Linked DNA regions of Homo sapiens: all the other regions are linked to region 3. Evidence: fine-mapped expression QTL. A gene starts in region 3. Each other region holds a variant in brackets. All regions are shown on one strand. Distances are between the middles of the regions.

Region 1 (8,173 bases), 24 kb before region 3:
GCATAAGCCACCGTGCCCGGCCACCAGTCACATTTTGAAACCATGACCGCTAGTGTGATGGTGTTAGGAGGGGGCCTTTGGCAGGCGATTTGGGTTAGATGAGGTCGTGAGGGCGGAGCCCCCACAATGAGATTGGTGCCCTGGTAGGGGGTGAAGGGACCAGCACTTTCTCTCTCGGGCTTGTGAGGACACAGTGAGAAGGTGCTGGCTTTGAACCAGGAAGCGGGCCTCTAAGAACCTGACCCTGCCGGCATCCTGACCTCAGACTCCTGCAGATTGGTGGGAAAGCAAATGCCTGTGTGGAAGCCGCACAGTCTATAGCAGCCTGTCACGGCAAGCTGAGCTAAGACACCGTGCCTCAGTTTCCCTCCCTGTAACACGGCAGCTGGAGAGGGTGTGTCCTGGCCTCAGAGGTCACCCATGTGGAAGCCGCATGGTCTACAGCAGCCTGTCACGGCAAGCTGAGCTAAGACACCGTGCCTCAGTTTCCCTTCCTGTATCATGGGAGCTGGAGAGGGTGTGTCCTGGCCTCGGAGGTCTCCCATGCAGAGGCGTTGTATAGCACCCATGGGGCTGTGTGTTTTTGGTCAAAAGCCTGGGTCACGCTAAGGGCAGCCAGTGCCTTGGCCCGGCCGTGTGGCTCAAGAGAGACCCTGGGCCTCCAGGCTGACCTCCCTGGGGTGGAAGGAAGAAGGGAAGAGGTCCTTGCCCCTCACTGGGGTGGCGTGGGTCCTCTGACCTCCTTCGGAGGGTTTTGACTGTGGCTGTGGGCTGGCGATGCCCTGCCTCCTGGGCCTGGGGGCACAGCTTCTCCAAGTTGGGCCAGCACAGCCTGAGGTATAAGCAGTGACTCTGAAAATCCAGAACGTCACGTGAAGTCTCCAGGTGTTTAGATGGTGACTCAGGCGAAGATGGAAAACTGCCTGCTGAAGACACAGAACCGAGGTCCCATCACGAGGAAGGTGCAGGCGGACAGGCCGGGGGCATGGACCACAGAAGGACGGGCCGGCAGCCCTCATAGGTGCGAGGTCACAGGGGTCGGGGAAGGCCCGGGAGCTGTGCCGGGCCAAAGAAGGCTGCCCTGGGTGAGGTCTGTCCCTGCAGCATCCTCTGATCTGAGATCCACTGGCTGCGTGTCTTTCCCAACTCTGACCTTGGGAGGACACCTGCGTTCCAGGAGACACAGAAGCGAGCTCAGGGTGGTCAGCGCCTCCCAAAGGATGCAGAGGACTCTCATGCTGCGGGTGCAGCTTTCTATGAACATGAGATCCTTTCCACAAAACAACACGCCCTGCCCGCGTGTTCCTCATCCGAGACGCGCAGGACCAGAAAAGTGTTTTGGAGCTCAGATTGTTTGGAGTTTGGACACTATATTTGCATTATACTTACAGGTTGAGCATTTTTCTCTGCTTTTCTTTTTTCAAATACTGCCACTTGGCCAGGTGTGTTGGCTCATGCCTGTAATCCTAGCCTCACCTCAGGGAGGCTGAGGCGGGTGGATCACCTGAGGTCAGGAGTTCGAGACCAGCCTGACCAACATGCTGAAACCCTGTCTTTACTAAAAATACAAAAATTAGCCAGGCGTGGTGGTGCCTGCCTGTAATCCCAGCTACTCGGGAGGCTGAGGCAGGAGAATCACTTGAATCTGGGTGGCGGAGGTTGCAGTGAGCTGAGATCTCACCACTGCACTCCAGCCTGGGCGACAGGCTCTGTCTCAAAAAAAAAAAAAAAAAAAAAAAAAGTGAAATCCCAAATGTTCTGTGTGCACCCCGAGCCCATCAGTGCTCAAAAGGTCTTGGGTTTTGGGGATTTCCGACTTTGAATGTGGGGTCAGGGTAGCCTCAGCTGCATGTGCATATCAAAAGGTGGGGGCTCATGAAATGCGTCATGGGCTGGCGGGGCTCCAGGCCCTGCCCCAGGACCCAGCACGGCCACCCCACTGCCAGAGGGAGGTGGGCTGCAGCATGGAGAGGCAAGTTCAGAGCAGCCCCCCTGCCCCGCCTACGGTTCACCTCTTCACCAGAGATAGGACCGGCAGAAGAGGCTTATGACGGAGAGTTTGGACTTCAAAACCGCAGTGAGCCCTGCCAACGTGAGAGCCCGACTCAGCAGACAAGGCCCACAGCCGGCTTTGCACTGGGGCACGACCCAGGACGTGGGGACCACGGGGCTGGGCCAGCTGCACGGGGGAATTCACCCCACAGGCTGCTGGGCAACAAAGCGTGATGAGGAAACACCACTTGGTGCAGGGCAGAGCCAGTGTCCCCGACAGACAGGAGGGAGGTCGGTCTTTCCACAGACTGGTCTGACAGGCAGGGACTCCTCCTGCTCCAGGGAGCAGATGGTGAACAGGCGGGGGACAGAGGACACGGCTGGACTCCATGAGGATGTGGCCTCTCTTCACGGGGAGGTGGCCCGGCTCCATGAGGCCTGGCCTGGGGCCTGCCTGCCCGGCCCTGGCAGCCTCATCCTGGGATGGGTGCCATCCCTGGGATGGGACAAGGGGGCTGTGGGCTTTGGCTCCTGGGTGCCAGGAAGCCTCATCTGCACCCTGGGTGGCCCCAGCCGCTCCCTATGCTGGGCCTGTGGTCAGGAACTTCCTGCTATGTGGGAGTGAATCCCCCACAGTCCAACGGCCACCTCCTCATCCTCACTGAGTCACGTTTGAGGGGGCACCCGGGCCCTCCACAGCCCAGGGCAGATGCTGGTGAGCCAGAGCCTGAGGCCCCGAACCTGTGGCCCGGGGTGCGTCTGTGCCGCAGAGACCAGAGGACTGTGCACCAGCGGGAGGACTGGGCCCTGCAGAGTGGCATCGGCTGCACCCTCTGAACAAGAGGGTACTGCAGGACAGACGCGTCACTCGCCGGCCAGAGTGGGGGCAGGCTGAGGGACTCCGCTGTGGATCTGGAGGCTGGGAGCAAAGGGAGCAAGTGACAGAGTGGCTGGAGCTAGAATCAGCCCCTTGCAGGGAGCACCCTCCCTCCCTCTTGCGCAGGGAGCACCTACCCTCCCTCTTGGGCGCACCCAGGTCCCGGTGCTCGGCCGGGCATCATGGTCTAGTGCTGCGGGGCAGACAGCGTCCCAAGTGGCTCACCCAACAACTGATGCCTTTCCTCGGGCACCTCCCACACTCAGATCTCACTGGGCCAGCTGGCGCCCCGCCCGCCCGTGATGCCCCTGCCTGTAGCACTGAGGCTCATCCCCCGCTGGGCCTCAACTCTCCCATCTGTGACAGGGGCGTGGGGACTCCTCGGGGCACGAGGACTGGAAGAGACAGCGCGGGACGGGCTGATGAACAAGGAGGAATGCGACTGCCGAGACCTC[C/T]TGGGAAGCCCCCACCCCAAGTGCAGGTGCGTGGGCCCCTGGTCAGGGTCAAGCCCCTTGAGGCCCGAGGGTACCCACTCCCATGGCCCTGGAGCACCAGGGAGCCCAGCCGAGCCGCTAGAAAGCAGGGAGAGGTCATGTTGGTCTGGAACGCGTCACAGGGGGGACGTGCCGCGGCACCATGTGGGGGGCTCGTCTGTGGGGAGGGCTGCCCCACTGGGGACCTGGGGACGGAGGCCCTGTGGGCCGGCGGGAGCACCAGGCAGCAGTGTGGGTGGGGTTGGTGGCGCCGGCACAGAGAGGGGTGGGCCCCCAGCCCGAGATGCTCCCTCCAGGGCCGGAGGAGGCTGGCGGCGGTGCGGCCTGACTGGGCACCCTTCTGGAGCGGCCACCCCTCGGCTCGTCAGTCAACACAGTCCCTCACTAGGGGACAGCTCCGTCCTTGCCACCTGAGCCTGCCCAGCCCTGGCGGACAGTGCCCTCTGCTGGCCTTCCGGTGCCAGGGTGGCCCGTCCTCATCCCGCGCCAGCACCTCCCCCAGGGACTCCGGCACAGTCCTTGCCCTCTGTGGCCAGGCTGTCCCACCGCCTCTGTCCTCTCATGGGCTCGCGCTGTGTGTCATAGCGTCAGGGCCTGGGCCGCTGTCCACAGGGCGCCTGGTGACAGTGGCGGCAGCAGCAGCAGCATGGTGGCAGCCACCAGTGGGCCTGGGGCCCCCGGGGGAGAGGATGCCCCAGAGGTGCATGAGCAGACCTCGTAACCGTCCTCCGAGCGGCTCTGGTCATGTTGTCCTGGAGGGGCGCGGGGCCCCTCTGCCGCGTCCACGCCCGCAGCCACAGATCCATCGGCCTGTGAGTCTCCACACACCAGCCAGTCCCGGGCCGTGGACTGTGGGTACCCGGGTGCCACCTCCAGCTCGCCATCCAGCACTTTCCAGTACTCCTGGCCACGGAAGAAGTAGGAGGCACCTGAGAAGAGGAGGGAGAGCTGAGCTCAGGGGAGGGCTGCAGCAGGAGGGGCTCGAGCCGGACAGCGAGGAGGGAGCGTTGGGCTCAGGGAGGGCTGCAGCGGAAGGGGCTCGAGTCGGGCCAGACAGCAGGGGGCTTGCACAAGACTGCAGTGGGGGGTCAGACCAGACGGCTGGTGGGGGGCGGCTCGTGCTAGATGGCAGGGGGTGCCCAGATAATATCTGAGATGGGGTCAGCATCTGCTCAGCTGTGGGCAGCTCTGCAGGCATGGTCACAGGCCTGGGAAGCTCCAGAGGAGCCTGCTGGGGCAGGGGATGGACCAGGAGACCCTCAGAGTCTCTTTCCCTTACTGGATATTTATTGAGGGCCCACTCTGTGCAGGGCTGTTCCAGGTGACAAGGATGCAGCGTTGAAAACAAAACAGAGGATGCTGCCGTCCCTGGAGCTGACCCTGTGGGGAGGTTTCTTCTACACTGTGGGACGTGGCAGGGGTGATGCCCAGGAGGGCGTTTGGCAGGGCTGGGGCCGGCGAGGGAGGGGCTGTGTGGACATCTCAGGAAAGTGTGCCCAGACGAGGCATGGCCAGTGCCAAGGCCCTGGGGCAGGAGCGTGGCTGGGGGAGCAGCAGGGGCGAGGGAGTGCTGAGGGCGGGGAGAACAAGGGCAGCTCGTGGGCCAGGCCTTCGGGGAGCGACTCGGGGACGCCTGCAGGGTCGGCAGCTCCAGGCGAGGGGCTGGGACCCTCAGAGCCCACACCGACCGGGGCCGTCCTCCTTTCAGGGAACCTCTTGGCTGCCCTGTAGTGATGCCCCTCTCCTGGTGGGGAAACCAAGGCCGCATGGCCCGTCCCCCCAGCTGGCACTCACCGTCGGACCAGCGCATGGCGTCGTCCAGCGTGCTGGGGACACCCCTCCACAGGGGGCTCTGGGCGGGGTAGCCGGGGTCCATGTGCCTCGTGTGGTCATCGTAGCGCCAGTACAGCTGGTCCTTAAAGAAATAAGTCCTGTCATTGTGGGCCCAGGAGAAGGCAGCGTCGATGCCGCCAGGCGGGAGGCTGAAGTCGGAGACGGGGCGCGGGTATCCTTCCTCTACGTTATTGTCCTTGAACACCCAGTACCTGTCTCCTGGGGGCGAGAGAAACAGCTGTGGGCCGGGGCTCGGCCCCACCCCGAAGGGCAGGAGGCTCCTGCCTTTCCTTCTCCTGTGTCAGCCGCCCTTGCCCTGGCCCCTCACCTGGGCTTGATGGGACAGCGGCCACACTGCAATCACCCCACATCACAGGGGCCACATGGATACTTAGTGAGCACCTACTGTGCCCAGTCCGGGCCATCCCATCCAGCCTGTGGACGCTGCCGGCCACCCCTTTACCGATGGAAACAACAACTCGGGCCAAACCGAGGCCCACGACATGCCATCCTATTATTATTATGATCATTATTTTTTGAGACGGAGTCTTGCTGTGTCACCCAGGCTGGAGTGCAGTGACTTGATCTCGGTTCACTGCAACCTCCGCCCCTGGGTTCAAGCGATTCTCATGCCTCAGCCTCCCGCGTAGCTGGGATTACAGGCGCCCACCACCACACCCAGCTAATTTTTGTATTTTTAGTAGAGACGGGGTTTCACCATGTTGGCCAGGCTGGTCTCGAACTCCTGACCTCAGGTGATTTGCCCGCCCTGGCCTCCCAAAGTGCTGGGATTACAGGTGTGAGCCACCGTGCCCTGCGTTAAATACACTTTTCTCCCAAGAAATATAGATGGCATTGAGCACTTGAAGATGGTCAACGTCACTAGAAACGCCCTCAAAACCACAATGAGACGCCCCCTCGCCCCCACTGTCAAGAACGTGGAAAGTCACCTGTGTCGGGAGGATATGGGGACGGCAGAGCCGGGCGCTGCCGGGGAGGGAGTATGAAATTGTGCAGCCGCTGCGGGAGACAGAACATAGGCTCCCCAAAACGTCAAAAATAGAATTACCACGTGATCCAGCATTCCCGCTTCTGGGTATAAATCCAAAAGAACCGAAAGCAGGGTCTTGGAGAGACGTTTGCACACTCACGCTCATAGCAGCGTCCTTCACAGGAGCCCAGAGTAGAGGAAACCCAAGTGAGCAGGCGAACGAGGTGCAGTCCGTCCGTGCCATGGAATGCCGCTCAGCCTCAGCCAGGAAGGAAATCCTGCCACGTGCCACCGCGTGTATGAGCCCCGAGGACCTTCCGCTGAGTGACACGAGCCAGGCACAGAGGGGCAGATCCTGTCTGTCCCACTGACATGGGGTCCCTGGAACACTCAGAGCCATGGGGACAGCAAGCGAAGTGGGGGTGCCCAGGGGAGGGGCGGGGCTGCCCAGGGGCGGGGCGGGGCATCCGTGTTTCACGGGGCAGCGTTTCCGTTTGGGAAGGTGGAAATCTTCGGGAGGTGGACGCAGGTGACAGCTGCACAGCAACGTGAACGTGCTTCATGCCACCGAGCTGTGGCTTCAAAATGGCTGAAATAGTAAAGTGTGCTCACCACGCCCACAATTTAAAACGACCAAAAAACCAGACCGGGAGTGGTGGCTCATGCCTGTAATCCCAGCACTTTGGGAGGCCAAGGTGGGTGGATCACCTGAGGTCGGGAGTTTGAGATCAGCCTGACCAACACGGTGAACCCTGTCTCTACCAAAAATACAAAAAATTTGCCAGGCACGGTGGTGAGCGCCTGTAGTCTCAGCTACTCAGGAGCCTAAGGCAGGAGAACTGCTTGAACCTGGGAGGTCGAGGCCGCAGTGAGCTGAGATCACACCACTGCACTGCAGCCTGGGTGATAGAGTGAGACTCTGTCTCAAAAAAATACAGTAAAATAAAATTAAAAATAAAAATAATATAAAAAGACCAGAAAAAGTCCTTTGCTGGAGACTGGAAAGGGCTGTGATGTCTGTAAATAGGGGGAGGGATTAAGGAGATGATGGGAGGACCAATGGGCCCTGCCCTGCTATGGCTGAGCAGGAACCAGGACAGATGCGCCTGGTAGGGAACCAGGCAGGGGCAGGCGACACAGGGGACAGAGGGGGAGCAGGGGTGAGACGGCCTGTGGCAAGAGACCCACATGTTCTCAAGTCTCTCCTGGCAGGTGACCAACCCCTCACACCCAGAAATGGGGCTTTATGGTAGCGAAACCTGCAGACACACCTCATCCAGGTGACCACAGCGAACATCACCAGGCAGGGCGGCTCGGGGCTCAGAACACCTGCCCTCGGTGGCATTCCTGCCAGATGTGCAAAACCAGAACCTGATCTGGAGGAGATGCCAGACGGGTCCACCTGGGGGAAGCGGCCTGAACACTTCTAATGTGTGCAAGGCAGGGGAGCCGCACGTGATGGGATCCTGCTCGGGGAGGCTCTACAGGGCACCCTGGGGCCTTTGGCAAGGTGGCCTAGGGGAGGTTAGGAGCAATTGGTCATGAGGTTTGCAAGTAATTTTCTTTTTTCTTTTTTAGTCCAGGTACTGTCTTTGGGGATTTTTTTTTTTTTTTTTTGAGACGGAGTCTCGCTCTGTCACCCAGGCTGGAGTCCAGTGGTGTGATCTCACCTCACTGCAAACTCCGCCTCCCAGGTTCACGCCATTCTCCTGCCTCAGCCTCCCGAGTAGCTGGAACAACAGGTGCCCGCCACCACGCCCGGCAAATTTTTTGTATTTTGTAGTAGAGACGGGGTTTCACCGTGTTAACCAGGATGGTCTCGATTTCCTGACCTTGTAATCTGCCCGCCTCGGCCTCCCAAAATGCTGGGATTGCAGGCGTGAGCCACTGCGCGTGACATTTTGGTTTTTTTTTTTTTTTAGACAAGGTCTTGCTCTGTCGCCCAGGCTGGAGTGCAGTGCACGATCATGGTGCAGTGCAGCCTTG
Region 2 (8,173 bases), 210 kb after region 3:
GATGGCGCTCTCGGTGCACCAGACTGGAACTTCTGCCCCCTCCCCGGATAGCCAGCTCTGCCACCCGCTGAAAAGGGTCCCTGGGCTGTGGACAGGCACCGTATCATGCTCTGCTATGTGGTCCTGAGGGGGACAACAGATGTCCCTAGGGTCCGTCCAGGACTCACCTGCCTGTCTCTGTATTTCTCTGCCAGGTCACCCCTACTTGGTGCACGTGATTCACAGGTGGGAAGCCACGCCTCCCAATCAGCATATTTCATACTGTGGTCCTGGGATTGGCTCAGGCATGGCCATGTGACCCAAGCTGGTCCAATGAGAATGTGCCCGGGACTTTTTCTGAAACCCCTGGGGAAGGGAGGCTTTGCCTCGCAGTTGCTCAGTTAAGAGGAGCTCTCTGAGGGCCATTTCCAGGCCGCCTTCCCCCATCAGGGACACAGGCAAAGTGCAAGAGCCCTGAGGATTTCCAGGGCTACAAAAATGTTTTAATTTCTTTTAAAATTAGAAGAAAATATGAGCTCTTAGGTCAAAGAAATATTAACCTATTCATCTTTGTACCAGTTGTAAAATAGAAGCTTAAAGGTGATTTTATGGAGGAAGGAGCCCACGAATGCAAAAGGGCCCAGGGCCCATGGAAGCCGCGTGCAGCCCTGTCTCTGCCGCCGCACAGGAGGGGGCCTGAGATGAGGATGGTGAGCTGACGGCCAGGGCCGGGTGAGGGTGACGCCCGGGCGGTGCCAGCCATCCACAAAGTCCTGCTGTGTGTGTACTGGCGTGGGCAACCTCATCAGAGCCCCACGGCACCTCACCATGATCGTTTCACAGACGGGGAGAGCGGGACCCAGAAAGGTTAAGCAATGCCACCAAAGCCACACTGCTTGAAAGTGGGAGAGCTGGGTCTTGAACATTGAGTTTGGCTGCGGAGTCTGAGCTGGGGAACCGCTGAGCTGCTTTCTGTCTGAGGGCAGGGTTGAGCCTGGGCCTGTCCTGATGCTGCCAGCCCCTTCTTAGGGTGCTCAGGTGAGGGCGTTGGTGAAGCCCCCTTTCTGTCACTTGCCTCCAAGACAGCCCAGATGACACACATGTGGAGCAGGGGCAGAGGAGAGCTGGGCAGTGGCTGCACCAGCCAGGAAGCAGATCCTGCTCCGCCGGGATATCAGACTATGTGGGCTCTGCAGCATTCACGATCCTACACTCCCACTCTGGGGTCTGGTGAGTCCTCCCCCTGCAGCAGGAGAGCAGGCTTTCCCAGAAGGTGAGCCCCACTGCTGTCCAGATGTGTGATGGCAGCTTCCTGTGAGGAACCAGACATTGTCCAATTGTGGGGGGTCTGGCTTCTTGGAGGTTTGCAGAGTGTGGCAGGTGTGGAAAAACTTGAGGCCAAGGAAAGTCCTTTCGAACAGGATTAAGCAGGTGGCATGTTGGTTGTGGTGATTCCAGTACTGTGTGCGTGTGTGTGTGTGTGTGTGTCTGTGTGCATGCACGTGTCTGCACATATGCATTCATGTATGTATGTCTGGGTCTGCGTGCGTGGGTCTCTGTGTGTGCATGCATATGTGTATATGCATTGTGTGCCCATGTGTGTGCACATCTGTGTGCACCTGTTGAGCCAGTTCTGTGAGTCCCCCTGAGGGCCAGGAGGCCGTGGGCAGGGCTGGTCCTGGAGAGCACTTTGTTTTCTTCTCCACACACTTTGGGTTCCCCCGCTGAGTGCACCCCCTGCATTTGGCTGGCTGCTTTCACCCCAGCCCCGCTCCTCCTGTGCCCAAGAACCTCCTCCTCGTCTCCTCCTCTGTCACGCAGCTGGTGCAGCACACCAGGCCTGCACTGAAATGCATCGGGGAGCAAAAGGGAGGTGAAGTCAAACATCCCATCTGCTCCTGTCCACGTCTTCAGGGTCACTGCCAAGTTCTGACACTGCCGACTCCCCACATTGAGGGCAAACAGCCCCCCCGAATGCAAATCTCACTCCTTGTTTGCAGTCACTGAGAAATTCTTTCTGGAAGATGTTTATTGTTTCTCCTTCGCTCTGCAAAATCATCAGTGTAGAGAGGATGTCTTAGGAGTTTCCAGAATAAGGAAACGAAGGAGCAGCGACTCATGTGGGTCCTCTTGGGATGGCTGAATGGAATGCAGAGAGGGGAGGAGAGTGGAAAATAGAGCATGCATTTTGAGAAAATTTCGAGCAGTTTCTCAGAAGCCTTGAGCCTTGGAGGAGGCAGAAAGGGAAATTATTTTCAGCTTTGTGTATGCTGTTTTCCGAGGATAGCACTTGTCTATCAGAGGCTGACTTCCTGAAGACTTTATCTATCAGATTAGAAGCCTGTATGAGAGCCTAGGTAAAAATGCAAATTCCTAGGTCCCAGCCCAGACCCTGGGATCAGAATATGGAGTGTGAGAGACCCAGGTTCTTGCGTCTCTGCAGCCTCCCACGTGATTCAGATGGTCGCTAAAGTGGGAAGACCAGGCTCCTGAAAGAGCGGATGGCATCTGCGCAGTTGAAGCATCGTTTGTCCATTCACTCATTCAGCAAATGTCACTGAGTCTCTTGAGGTGCCAGCGCTGTCTCTGGTGCTGAACCAGGGCCCCGCGCTCACGGCATTCACCTTCCAGTGGAGGAGACAGCTTGTATCTGAGGGAGTCCCCCAGCAGTCAGAAGGGACACGACGGGTTAACTGAAGAGGGCTTAATAAAGGGCAGGGGTCGGGACCGAGGCTGTTTATGCCAAGATGGCAAAACCCAAGAGGTCTGTGGGTGGCGACGTCTGAGACTCTAGCGGCCGCCTGGAGCTTCCGAGGCTCACCAAGAGCAAACCTGAATTGCTTTCCAGGCCACATGTCCATGAACAGCACGTGCAGAAGCAACACCCGGAGGCCTCTCCACTCCCCAGGGGCTGGTGTGGGAGGCGGCCGTGGCACCAGGAGCTGCTGCATCCTGCAAGTGCACTGCCCGGTTATTAGTCATGGATGGCATCCAGAATTTCTCCAGCATACTTGGGCCCACCAAATAGTCACAGCAGCACAAACGGCCCAGCAAATCAGAGGCCCTGAGGGACAGGACCCAGAGCTGGGAGGGTGCACAGGACAAGCCTGGCTCCCTGCGTGCCTGGAGGGTGGCTCCCTCGCCCTGGCCACTGTAACTCCGACTGCCTGTCCTGGAACACGTGCCTGCCATGGTGTGAGGGTACACAGGGTAGCCTGAGCCCTACCTGAACTTCAGAGACCAGGGGCACGGGGGGATCCCTGGGCTGATATCAGAAACAAGGGCATCGGTGCTGGCGAGAAAGTAAGGGGAGGCCCCGGCCCCCTGCAAAGGATCCCGTGAGCCCCCAGGTAGCTGCTCCCAGGACATGGCACTTGGACCCCCTCATCCTCACAGTCTCGGACCCGACTCCTCCACGTAGCCAACACCATAGGATGTCAACAGTGTCTTTAAAGCTATGAGGCTCCCAAACAAACTCTCCTCTTCCCGCCCCAGTCGCCTCCATTCCCAGGACATACTCGGAGCTCTCAGGCAAGCGGGACTGCTGTGGTCCTCAGCCGACAGTCCCGGGGTGCAGCCAGAGACCACACTGCAGCCTCAGCCCTCTCCTGCCTGCCTCCACTCTAATCTCCACTCCGCATGGTGCTCTGTCCGACGAAGGAAGTGGCTCGCTGGTCAGGAGAAAGCCCACTCCAGGCCGTGCATTC[G/A]GGAGCTTTCCATGGAAGGAGCCGGGTACGCAGGTGGACGAGCAGGACATCAGCCAGAGGCTGGAAGACACTCCAGGGTCTTGGCAGTGGGAGCCTCCAGGGCCCTGAAGGTTTATTTGAGCCACTGTGCAAGGGGGCTGGTGCCTGGCTCCATGTGGAGACCTCCCCTTCCCCCAGGACAGAGCGAGCTCCTTCCTATGGGATTTCCAATAAAGCTCCTCACAACTTAGACGAGTTTCTAACCTAGGGGATTCATCATTTCACTAAAATGTATTTACTGAGTACCTACTGCATGCCACGTGCCATGCCCGGCATGAGAAACAGAGGAACAAGAAGGGCAGGACACATCTGAGGAGCCTGTGTCCTGGGAGGCGGACAGGGTGGGATCCAGGAGCAGGACCGGGCCTCATGACTCCTGGCTGGGAGGTGGACAGGGCGGGATCCAGGAGCGGAACGGGGCCTTGTGACTTCTGTTTGGGAGGCTTGAGCCACAGAGGAGGTTGGCGCCACCTTCTCTGGAGGGAAGGCAGAAGGACAGAAGTTTTGGAGGAATCACGAGTTTGGTTTGGGCCGATGCAGGTTCAGCAGCCATGAGGGCCCTGGATGGGTCCGTGTCTCCTCACAAAGGAGTTGTTTATGACTCCAGTTATGCACCCATGAGTAGCATGAGAGCTATACCAAGGTCTGTTTCCCGGCTACTGTGAACCTGGGGGGTTTCTGGTGAACGGAGCCCACACTGACGCGGGGCAGAAACACACGTTCCATCGTTCTGAGCTGAAAGGGGGCAGCCTGGACAGAGCACATGGTGGGGAGAAGCCGCTGTTCCCTGCTGTGCCGGGCTGGGGTGACTGGCGGTTGATAAACAGCCCCGCTCCTAACAAAGAGCCCTGGAGCGGGAGCCGGCACAGTCGACGTGCCATTTATCTTAAGGCTTTCAGGGAGGAAAAATATATTTAAAAAAAAGCTCCTGGGAAATGGACAATTATTAATGAAACTGTTTTATCAGTGACTTCACTCATTTGCCAGGCAGGGAGATGCTGACATACAAGAGTGAGGCCAGGTGGGCTTTGGAGGGGGCTGAGAAGGTGGCCAGGAGCACAGCGTGCCCTCTCAGCTGTCAGTGGGTCTGCAGGCCCCAGACGCCCTCTCTGAGGACAGCGTTGGGAGTAAGGGCCGCCATGAGCTTCATTTAATTCACCTGACATCTGGGGAAGCCTGGGGGTGGCTTGCAGAGCCCACACTTATGACAAAGGGGTGTTGTGGGACCACAGGCTCTTGGTTCCCTAATCGTTCACTGGAAAGTCAGTGACATGAGGCAGATTGAGTAAGAGGAGAAAAGCACACACATTTATTTACTGACCATGTGTGCCTGGGAGCCTTCAGAATGAAGATCCAACCCAATGATGAGGTACGGAAGCTTCCACACCATCCTGAGGCACAGCAAGGAAGGCTGAGGACTCTAAGCACTGCCAGAAACAGGTCATGCTGCAAAGTCAGGCTCAGTGGCAAGACAGGGAAACAGCGGGAGAAAGGAAGAGGCTTGGCTAGCACAGGCAGCCTTGTTATGGAGGTGAAGCCTCCCTTGGAGAGGATAGACGGGAAGTGTTTCTTTTCAGACTCTTAACAGTGTCAGACTCTCAATCTCTCCCAAATCTGGGAAAGGTACAGAAAGTAGAGGGGGCCTGGCTGCATTAATGGAGATTCTCTACAGGGGCCTGTGGCAGCTGTTTCAAATTATGTCAAGCAAATGTATTTTGGGGTTACATATTTTAAATTCCTCCAGCATTCTCTGCAGTTCTCTGCTGGTGCAGATGGCTCTGCCTGTGGGCTCAGGCAACAGCTCAGACCTCAGGAGTGCACGGGGCGGCTTCTTCTAGGAGGCTCAGAGGTGTTGATGAGAAATGCCAAACTCTAAAATATTTGAAGAGATGTATTCTGGGCCAAATGTGAGGACCATGACCTATGACACAGCCTCAGGAGGTCCTGAGAACATGTACCCGAGGAGGCTGGGTTGCAGCTTGGTTTTATACGTTTTAGGTAGACATAAGACATCAATTAATACATGTGAGGTGTACATTGGTTTAGTCTGAAAGGTGGGACAACTGGAAGCAGGGTTGGGGGCGGCTATAGTAGGTCATAGATGGGTTCAAAGATTTTCTGATTGGCACTTGGTTGAAAGAGTGAGGTTATTATTGAAGGACTTGGAATCAATAGAGAGGAATGTATGGGTTGAGATGAGAGGCTGTGGAGACCAAGGTTCTTATTACGTAGATAAGTCTCTCAGATGACCACCCTTAGAGGAAAAAGGTGGCAAATGTTTCCTATTCAGACCTTTAAAAGATGCTAGACTCTGGAAAAGACCTGGAAAGGGCACGGGATTCTCTACAGAATGCAAATTTCCCCCACAAGAGACAGCTGTGCAGGGCCATTCCAGAAATAAATAAACAGATTTTTGGGTAAAATACTTAGATTTCTTTCAGGGCCTGCTATCTCTCATGTGACAATTTACTAGATTCGGGTTGGAATTTGGTATCTTTTTTTTTTTTTTTTTTTTGAGACGGAGTCTCACTCTGTTGCCCAGGCTGGAGTGGGTGGCATGATCTTGGCTCACTACAAGCTCTGCCTCCTGAGTTCAAACAATTCTCCTGCCTCAGCCTCCCAAGTAGCTGGGATTACAGGCACCGGCCACCATGCCTGGCTAATTTTTTTGTATTTTTAGTAGAGATCTCCTGACCTTGTGATCTGCCTGCCTCGGCCCCCCAAAGTGCTGGGATTACAGGCGTGAGCCACCGCACCCGGCCTGGAGTTTGGTATCTTATTGCTACAAAGAGTCTCTTTGGTCAGTCTTAAAAATCTGTTTTAATGTTAACGCTGGCCAGTTGCGCCAGAAATGCCAAGGGAGGAGGGTATCATGAAGCATGTCTGAACCCCCTTCCCATCAGGGCCTGAATCACTGTTTTAGGTTTACTTTGGAATGCCTGTGGCTGAGATGGGGGGTCCATTAGTTGGTTGGGGGCCTTAGAATTTTATTTTTGGTTGACAGAGGTCAGCAGTGAACACATGGCTTCCCAGACCAAGTCACCCATGGATGAGAGGCCTGCTGCTGCTGGAGGGTGATGTTCTCACTTGGTCTGGAGGTAACACAGGCAGCCTCTCTGCATGGAAGTGTAACTAGTGTCAAAAGAAAAACCTTAGACAAATTAAATTTAACAAAGTTTAATTGAGCAAAGAACAAGTTGCGAATTGGGTCATGTCCAGAGCCAGAGTAGGCTCAGAGGCTCCAAGGCAGCCACATGGTGGAAGATTTATGGACAGAGAAAAAGGAAAATGACCACAGAAAAGGGAGTGAGGACAGAACACGCTGGGTCGGCTGCAGCTGGGACAGAACCCACCGGGTCGGCTACAGCTGGGACGGAGCCCGCCGGGTCGGCTGCGGCTGGGACGGAGCCCGCCGGGTTGGCTGCAGCTGGGCATTTGCAGACCTCAGTGGCTGGCACGAGAGTAGGGTAGTCTGTTTACACATCCACTTAGGTTTCAGTTCTCTATGTACAGAGAAACCTTTAGGCTGAACTTAAAATATGTAAGGAGGCAGCTTTAGGCTAAACTTAATTTAACACCAGGGACCTCAGTTTTAAAAATCACATACTCTCTTTTTCTTCCCTCCCTCTCCTCTCACTCCGATTCCTTCCCTCTCCGGACACTCCCCTGTAGCAATGCACACTCATCTAATTAGATTCTTGCTTAAGAAATTGCAGAGGCTGATCTCAAAACAAACCGGGCACTGAGCCCCCATTGTGGACTCTGCTGCTTAGGGGAAGTCATGACCAACGTCCACCACCACCGGGCCCAAGTCAACATGGCACCATCCAGACCTCCGTCCACCCAAGACAGCCACTGGGGTGAGACACACAGGCCCTGCACCCCGCGTGGCTCCCGTGTCACGTTTCCCAGCTCCCCGTGGCACATTTTAACATTTAAGATGGTGCTTTAGAACACCAGTTCATCTTCTTGGCTTGTTGGCTTTCCGATGAAAGCTGCTTTCCCTCCCACCACCCCTTGGCCCTCATGTCTGGCTTTTGAGTGGTGAGCCGTTGAACCTGGGTTACAGAGGGTCCAGGGCCCAGCTTGTCCCTGAGGTTCAAACCCAGCAGGCCCCAGGCGGCTGTCACCAGGGACCCAGCTATGGTCTGAATGCTTGTATCTCCCCAGACGCATCTGTGGAAATGCTAACCCCCAAGGTGATGGTGTCAGGAGGTGGGAACTCTGGGAGGTGATGAGATTATGAGGACTGAGCGCTTTTTCTGGGGTTAGTGCCCTTCCAAAAGGGACCCTAGGAAGCCCCCAATCCCTTCCACCATGCAACAATGTAGTCAGAAGGCGTCGTCCATGAACCAGGAAGTGGTCCTCATCAGATGCTGACTCTGCCAGCCTCTAGAATGGTGAAAAATAAATTTCTGTTGTTTCTAAGCCACCCATTCTGTGGTTTT
Region 3 (8,173 bases):
CAGGGCGATGACAAGGTCCTGAGGGCCAGGAACCCAGAGGCCACCGGCAGAAGCCAGGACATGGAGGGCGGCTGCCACCTGGCACCATCTGGCCCAGCATCCCACAACCTCAGCAGTACCCCCCACCTGCCCCGCCCCACCCCACCTCCTACAGAAGATCAAGGGAGCTGCCACTGTGCCGTGGGCGCGGTGATGACAGCCACAGGCTGTGCTGCCGAGAGGAGAAATGGAGCAGAAACTTTAGAGCAGCTTGTCAAAATCTGCCACCACACAACTGCCACCCAGGACCCAGATCCCGAGACACTCTCGCCGCGAGTCCGGGAAGTTCTGGCCAGAAGCAGGCTGCAGGCCGAGCCTGGCTTAACCAGGTGAATAGACGGGCGGCTCCGGCACAGACACTCCAGATAGCGTGCGAAGCTGCAATCGCACGGCCCACGGTGCCACCGTGCAAAAATAAGGCACGGAGAGCCGCGTCCCATCCGTGCCCAGGAACCAGGGGCGGGAGGGAGGCGGACGCCTGTGGAGACCCTGGGCTGCTCGCTGTATGTCGTACTCAAAACACAGAAAGACAAAAAACTCAGGCCCACAAGGACAAGCAGCCCCGCCAAGGACCCCCGGGGGGACAGTGCGCTCTTTTGTCCCCGCCGGGGGCTCCTGAAAGCCCGGCTCCGCAGCCCAGCAGCCTGAATCCCGGCCTTGTTCACGTGCATACGGGGGGCGCTCCGGGGCGGGCCCTCCCCTCCAGCCCCGGCTCCAGCCCTGCTGGGTGCAGCTCTGTCTGCAGCTCTGAGACAAAGGAGCACTTCTCGTCCCTGGCGCCCAGACCTGAATATCAGTCCACTCCGGGAGCGCCTCCGGCGAGCGGGCGGAGGAGGAGTCCCCGCTCCCGCCCAGATCCCGGCCTCCTCGTCCCTCCCCGCGGGGAAGCCGCCCGCCCCTGGGCCTGAGCTCGGCCCGCGGTTCCCCGAGGGCCAGCAGAGGACGCCCCGCACCGCCAGTGTGAGCAGGAAGCCGCGGCAGGACGGAGGCTCCACGCCAGGCCGGGCCCGACACGGAGCGGGGCTCCAGGCAGGGGGCTGCCCGCAGCGTCCTCCCTCTCCGGCTGGACACCGGGGCCCCACTCACTGCCCCCGGCCAGGCTGGGGAGCCACATCCTCCGCTCGGTGCTGTCGCAGGGCGCGGGGCGGGTGACCCCCGGGGTGCCAGGAGAGACCGAGGCGCAGGTACCAGCCGAGAGGAGGGCGCCTGACCCACTCTCTCCGGGCAGGGGGGCAGGTGGGTGGCGAGAAACTTCCAAACCGCACTGGGTCTGATCAGCCAACATGGCTCGGCCGGGGGTCCATCCTCCTGAGTGTGTGGGCCCCACCTTGAGTCCTTCCCTGGCATTGCCCCGGCCCCTTCTGCGGCACCCTCGGACCTGGAAGGCGGGCCTGGGTTCACCTCCCTCCACAGCTGGAGACCCCAGGCCCCCAGGGCGTGATTCTCAGTGGGGGATCCGGGAGATCCGCACCTACAAAAGGGTCTTGAGGAGGTGGAGGGGGGCACCCCAAGTTCACAGGCTGCCTGGCTGGAAGGAAGCCACTGTGGGGACCTGCAGGCACCTGGACGCGGGCAGCAGGGACAGTGGCCAGCACCCTCCCAGATGGCTTCGGGGCCTGGGGCAAACGGTGGCCAAATCGGCTTCCCATCCAGACCCCCTGGCCAAGTCCTGCCAACCACAGGGGCTGCGGGTGCCACCCAAGTGGCCCCTCCATATGCCTCGACTGCCTGAAATACACCTGCGCTGACTTGCTTGGACCCCAAGGTTTTGGAGCTCCTGAATGTCCACTGCGCTGGGCGAGGGGCCCTGCCAGGACCCCACTGGGAGACTGTCCGCGGACGAGGGCCAGGCCGAGTACTTGTGTGGGGCGGGGAGGCCTCGGCTCCTGGCCCGACTCCCTGGGTAGGAGTCCATTGAAGGCAGCGGTGGGGCAGGAGCCTCAGAAGGAACCAACGAACCCAGCGGGAGTTCACCCGGCCGCCCCAGCGGGGGGGCGCTGACCCCACGACGTGTGCTCTAAATCTTCCGGGTCCACAGGAGACGCGAGTCCCGGCTGCGGAACAGGGGAGGGGGCTGTAGGAAGAGGCCACGTCGCTGCCCCCAGGCAGGGTTTCTAAGCTGAGCTGGGGACAGCTACTGGGTGTGGAGTGAGGAAGGCTCTCCCCGCGCCCCCGGCTCAGCACTGTACCAGGGCAAGGCAGGGCCAGCCTGGCCGACCTGGGGTGGAGGGGAAGGAGGCTGAGGGCCAGGTCCTTGTCCAGTGGGGAGCTGGGGGCCAGCATCCCTGTGCCCCCAACACCCTCAACCGAGCAAACTCGGGGGCTCAAGGCTTTCGGGGTGCCCCCACTCCGTAGCCCCTGCCCTTCCTCGCTTTGTGGGTGCGTGCTCCTGCCCCCGCCACTCCCACCCGGAACGCACGCAGCGCGCAGAGCTCGGGGCGGCCGCGATGCCTGCTCTCGCCCAGCCCGGCTGCTCCGGGGCTGCTGCAAGCCGGCGACCCGGGCTCCGGGTGGGCGACCCCCTCACAACTCCACGGGCTCCTGCGGCTGCGGCGCGCTCCCAGCGCACGGAGCCGGGACGGCAGCCGGCGCCTCCCCAGGACTCGCGTGCGCTCGCCCGGTCGCTCAGCCCGCGTCCCTGCCTCAGTCTCCCCACCCAGGAAATGGGTCCAGGGCGCCAGGGCTCCCGCGCGACGCCGACGTGCACTGCTGGGGTCTTCCCGGTCCCCGCCACCCGGCCCGCGGAGACCCCCGGCTCCGGCCCAGGAGCTCCGCGCCCGTCCCGCCCGCGCGCTCACCACTCCCAGGCTGAGGTCCTCGGCGCGCGGCGCGGGTGCGGGCGCGGCGCAGCCCCCGCGGGTCCCCAGCGCCAGCAGCAGCAGCAGCGGCAGCGGCAGCCGCGAGAGTCCGGGCCCTGGGGGCGGCGGGCCGGGTCCCCGGGCTGCGCGGCGCCGCATGGCGCTCACATGGGCCCGCGGGCGGCGTGCAGGGTCCCGCGCCCTCCGCTTCGCGTTCCGCAGCCCGGCGCCCTCCGCTCTCCGCGGCGCCCCCGCCGGACTGAGCCCCGCGCGGCAGCCTCAAGCGGCGGGGCGGGGCCATGCAAATGTATGCTAACGAGGCCGGCCGCCTTAAAGGGCCCGCGCCGCCTCGGACGCTGCCACCCCCGCCCGCCCCGCCGTGTCCGCGACGGGACTGGGTCCGCGGCATCACAGGGAAGGCGTTTCCCCGGGTGTCTTAGGACGCTCTTGGGGCGGCGGGGACGCGCGGGATGGGCGCGGAGGCGGGGGTCGGGGCGCCTGCGGGGAGCTGACCCTGACTCCCCTCTCCGGCCGCGCTCCCGGGTCCACCCCCCACGGCGCCGAGGCCCGGGTTCAGACCCGGGTTCAGGCCCCGGAGCCGCCGCCGCAGCGCAGCAGGTGGGCGCTTGGTGGAGCCCGCGGACCGCGGGAGAGGGAGGGTGGGGCTTGGGGGGCGCGGGGGACTGGAGGGCGAGGGCGGGTGTTGGGGGGGCTGGGGTCCTCGGCGGAGGCTCTGCGGTCCCTGCGGGCCTGGGAGCGAGAATGTTAACTTGTAATGTTTGTTGGAGCGCAGCGTGTGCCTGGCACATGCCCAGGAGTTACATAAATAATTTCATTTACTTACAACATTTATGAGATGAAAACTATGATTTCCATTTCGCAGACAAAGAAACTGAGGCCCAAAGAAATGAAGTAACTTATGGGAGGTCCTGGAGCGGGCAAGCGGCAGAGCCAGGGTCAGAGCCCGAGCAGGCGCTTGTGTGGATTGAACTCGTGCAAGTTGCGTACAGGCTGCCCACCGAGTGGGAGATCTTGGGAGAGGGCAGGGGGTGAGGTTCAAGGGTAACCCTTGCCTTTATTCAGCTTCTCCTCGTGCTGGACAGCATGGCTTCCCCTCCTTCCCAGGCCCTCCTGCTCCACCACCCCAAATCGCAGCTGGTACTGTCAGGACTGAGGTCTCATTCTACGGACAGGGAAACTGAGGCTCGGCCCCTTTTACCAGAACTGGTCTCAGGGAAGTGGTGCCCCTCCCCTCCTGTGAGGGCCGACTCCCCCCAACCACCCCCCCCCCCCCCCCCCCGCTTCCCTGGGTACTCTGGCCCATCCTGTCCCTGCTGCCCTCAGAGCCTCCCTGGCCCGGTCTGAACAGGGTGATTCCACACCTGCTTCAGATGACCTTGGTTCGGACTGATGGGATCACCTGTAGGAGGTGGGGACTTTCACAGGACATCCCGGATTGTTTTTTCTTTCTTTCTTTTTTTTTTTTTTGCTCTGTTGCCCAGGCTGGAGTGCAGTGGCACGATCTTGGCTCACTGTAATTTCTGCTTCCTAAATTCAAATGATTCTCCTGTCTCAGCCTCCTGAGTAGATGGGATTTCAAGCGTGCACAACCGTGCCCAGCTAATTTTTGTATTTTTAGTAGAGACGGGGTTTCACCATGTTGGCCAGGCTGGTCTTGAACTCCTGACTTCAGGTGATCAGCCCGCCTTGGCCTCCCAAAGTGCTGGGATTACAGGCGTGAGCCACCGCACCTGGCCTCATCCGGGATTTTGACCAAGTGCATCAGGACAACCTGGTTTCCAGAGCAGAGACCCAGCCAAAGCGGCTGTAGTCAAGGAAAGGAAGCGTATGGGTATGGGCTCAGGAAACGGTGGCGTCCTAGCGTGTGCCAAAGTCAGGCAGGGCTGGACCAAGTCTCACAGCAACAGCGTCAGAACGCGGTTTCTCTCAGTCCATCTCTGTGTGGGGCAAAGACGGCCCAGGGCAGCTCCTGTGCATCCTTCCCCCTCAGCAGGCCCAGCCAGAGACAGACTCTTTCTCAACCAATGGTCCCAAGGCCACCTCTCTCTGGATTCTGGGTCAGGACCTGATCGTGGGGCCAGGGGCAGGGAAGTGAGCTGAAGCCCTGGGCTGGAAGGGATTCTCTACAGGAAATCAGAGGTGCTGAAGTCAGAGGAAGGGAGGGTGGATGGCAGGCAAAGCTGGGTCGAGGACTCAGAAGAGGGAACGCGGCCAGTGCCCCCACTGCATCATGGGGCTCATACACATCTGAGACTTGGAACAGGACGCTGTTGAGGGGCTGTAGCTCGGTGCTGGCAAGGGGCTTCACCGCGGGGCTTGCTGGCATTGAAGGGAGATGGCTTGTTTATGGAGCTTGGGCGACAGTGGCTTGGGATGTACAAATGTGAGAAGGGCCTTACAGGCAGGCCACTGTTCTCCCCAGAAAGGCCTGGTGGCGGCTGGTGAACTGGAGATGCTTGGTTAGACATCGGGAATTTGACCTTCCTCAAAGCAGCTGCCTGGCACCATGGCTGCTGTGTTCCCTTCAAGCCTGCCACCCCATTCGGACATCTGAAAGCCGCTGAGATCCAAGCCCCGCAAGAAATCGCTCTTCTCCCATCAGCTTTGCAACGCTGAAAAATCATGACGGCACGGTGGCTCACACCTGTAATCCCAGCACTTTGGGAGGCTGAATTGCAGGCGGATCGCTTGAGCTCAGGAGTTTGAGACCAGACTGACGAATATGGCGAAACCCATGTTTCTACTAAAAATATAAAAATAGCTGTGCATGGTGGTGTGTGCCTGTGGTCCCAGCTACTTGGGAGGCTGAAGTGGAAGGATCACTTAAGCACAGGAATTCCGGCGAGACAGAGCGAGACCCTGCCACGAAAAAGAAAGAAAGAAAGAGAGAGAGAGAAAGAAAGAAAGAGAGAGAGAGAAAGAAAGAGAGAGAGAGAAAAAAAAGAGAAAGAGAAAGAGAAAGAGGGGAGGGAGGAAGGAAGGAAGGAAAAAGAAAAACCACGTATTATCATCTGTGGAGGAGGGTGTGGGGAGTGGGCACTCAGGCTCCTGGTACAGCCCCTCGGGAGGGCCACCAGGTAGCAGCTATTACGATTCAAGAAGCACATGTTCTGCGGCCAGAATTCTTGGCGTCTGCTGTAGAGGAACGCTCCGGTCTTTGCACGGGAAGGCTAATGCAAGCATGGTGTTGCAGCGGGATTTGTAATAGGAAAGAATTCAGAAACTGCCCACGCGCCCACCCATGGCCGACTGGCTGATCCAGGGCCATGTGTCCTGCTGGCTGTGGCCAAGGGCATGGGTAGGGGCTGGAGTCCCACCTGCACCCTGTTTATGGATCCATGGCCTCACCGTGGGGCCACAGCACATGAGGAATCAGGCACCTTTCCAAGACCCACAAAGCTGCTGTGTAAGCTGGTGGCTGCCCTGGGCTGACAACACTGGGCTATGACCCAAAGACAGAAGCCAGGAAGAAGGGATTCGATCCAAGAGTATCCGCAGGGCCACTCAGACATATTGCTGGATTTTTTTCTTTTTTAAGACGGAGTTTTGCTCTGTCACCCAGGCTGGAGTGCAGTGGTGCGATCTCGGCTCACTACAATCTCTGCCTCCCAGATTCAAGCCATTCTCCTGCCTCAGCCTCCCGAGTAGCTGGGATTACAGGCACCTGCCCCCACGCCCAGCTACTTTTTATATTTTTAGTAGAGACAGGGTTTCACCACGTTGGCCAGGCTGGTCTCAAATGCCACACCTGACTTCAGGTGATCCACTCAACTCGGCCTCCCAAAGTGCTGGGATTACAGGTGTGAGTCACTGTGCCCGGCCTCAGACATACTGTTGAGCAAATTAAACAATTTATGAGAAGCAAGAAAAGCAGAAAGCAGAAAAGACCCACAATAACTGTATCTTGTATTTATGTTTGCCACGTGCACATCCACACGTTGCATCACATCTTCTGAGCCCCCTGATCCAGCCTTGCCTGCTATCCATCTCCCTTACCCTGCAATTTCCTTTAGAAAAGCCACCTTTGTCCCTGTCAGCCCAGGGTTTAGTGATGCTGCCCCATGCCTGGAGCATTAAACCTGGGCTGGGCCCATCAGCTCATTTCCAGCCCCTGGCTGGAGACTCAGGTAGCGTTGTCTGTGGACCATGAAGATGGGCAAATGACAGGCGGGCACTATTGTCGGAGCTCTGTGGGACACACGCTTGGGGCTCCTAGCTGTGACATGAAGGTTGTAGGAAAGCCAGAGGTGCCCAGCCCTGGTCTGTAGCCATCCGGGTGCAGACACTCTGACGGGCAGCTCCCAGGTGGCCCTGCCCACGGTTGCTCCTGTGGGGACCCAGGACCCTCGTGTCAGGCAGTGAGGAGGGGGTGCTGTGCCCCTGGTTGTATCGCTCAGGGTGAATTCCATTCAAGGCTCTTTGGGTGTAAGTGACAGGAAGCCCAGTGCAGAGAGGCCTGAGCACAAAACACTGTGTTTGGCTTATGTCACCCATTTCAGAGATGGGCCCTCCCTGGACCCTATGCCAGCCCCAGCCTGGTTGGTCTTCTCCTCAGCCCAGCGTCTTCGAAGTCCTGGTTCCAAGTCCTCATGCACTGGTACCTGGCTTCCCTGCTGCCACGAACACCACCAATGGAGGTCCTCAGCCCCTCGTTGTTGACTTTTAAATGTTAATTAATTAATTAATTAATTATTTTTGAGATGGAGTCTCACTCTGTCGCCCAGGCTGGAGTGCAGTGGTGCAATCTCAGCTCACTGCAGTCTCCGCCTCCTTGGTTCAAGCGATTCTCCTGCCTCAGCCTCCCGAGTAGCTGGGATTACAGGAATGCGCCACCACGCCCAGCTAATTTTGTATTTTTAGTAGAGACGGAGTTTCTCCACGTTGGTCAGGCTGGTCTCGAACTCCTGACCTCAGGTGATCCACCCGCCTTGGCCTCCCAAAGTGTTGGGATTACAGGCGTGAGCCACTGCGCCCCGCCCCACGTATCTTTTTAAAAGATAAATGTTATCGTGTGCATTTACGGTGTACGTTGTGGTGGTGTAGGGTACGTATACGTAGTAAATTGGTGGCCACAGCAGAACGGGTGAGTTTTGCATCATCTCCCAGGCACCTGTCTTCCTCCCACAGCCAGCGCAACCATGACCCATGCATTAGCAGACGCCTGGAGCATAATTATTCTCTGCAGCCCTCAGGTGCACACGAGCCCTTTTGAAGGGGCTCACCCTGTCGCCCACTGTTTTATTCTCTGTCTTTATATATTTGATCCCCACCTTTTTATTTATTTATTTTTGTGAGACAGGTTCTTGCTCTCTTGC

Evidence for each region.
Region 1: its variant is fine-mapped to the expression of MMP17 in whole blood (INTERVAL, PIP above 0.99).
Region 2: its variant is fine-mapped to the expression of MMP17 in whole blood (INTERVAL, PIP 0.96).

Annotation. Positions count from the first base shown.
Region 1 is chr12:131,847,044-131,855,216 of GRCh38, reverse strand. It overlaps MMP17 (matrix metallopeptidase 17), which reads right to left. Exons shown (of 10, transcript NM_016155.7): 9 at 5,158-5,415; 10 at 3,446-4,292. The coding sequence ends at 3,943. Among named protein-coding and RNA genes, the nearest start is that of MMP17, 23 kb to the right of the region's middle. RefSeq lists an enhancer at 3,601-3,770. The variant C/T (reference allele first, on the strand shown) is at 3,325.
Region 2 is chr12:131,612,850-131,621,022 of GRCh38, reverse strand. No RefSeq gene overlaps it. Among named protein-coding and RNA genes, the nearest start is that of LINC02414, 31 kb to the left of the region's middle. RefSeq lists enhancers at 2,437-2,937, 2,938-3,438. The variant G/A (reference allele first, on the strand shown) is at 3,687.
Region 3 is chr12:131,823,318-131,831,490 of GRCh38, reverse strand. MMP17 (matrix metallopeptidase 17) reads right to left here and starts at 3,098. Exons shown (of 10, transcript NM_016155.7): 1 at 2,838-3,098. The coding sequence starts at 2,996. RefSeq lists silencers at 855-1,114, 3,104-3,233 and an enhancer at 762-1,371.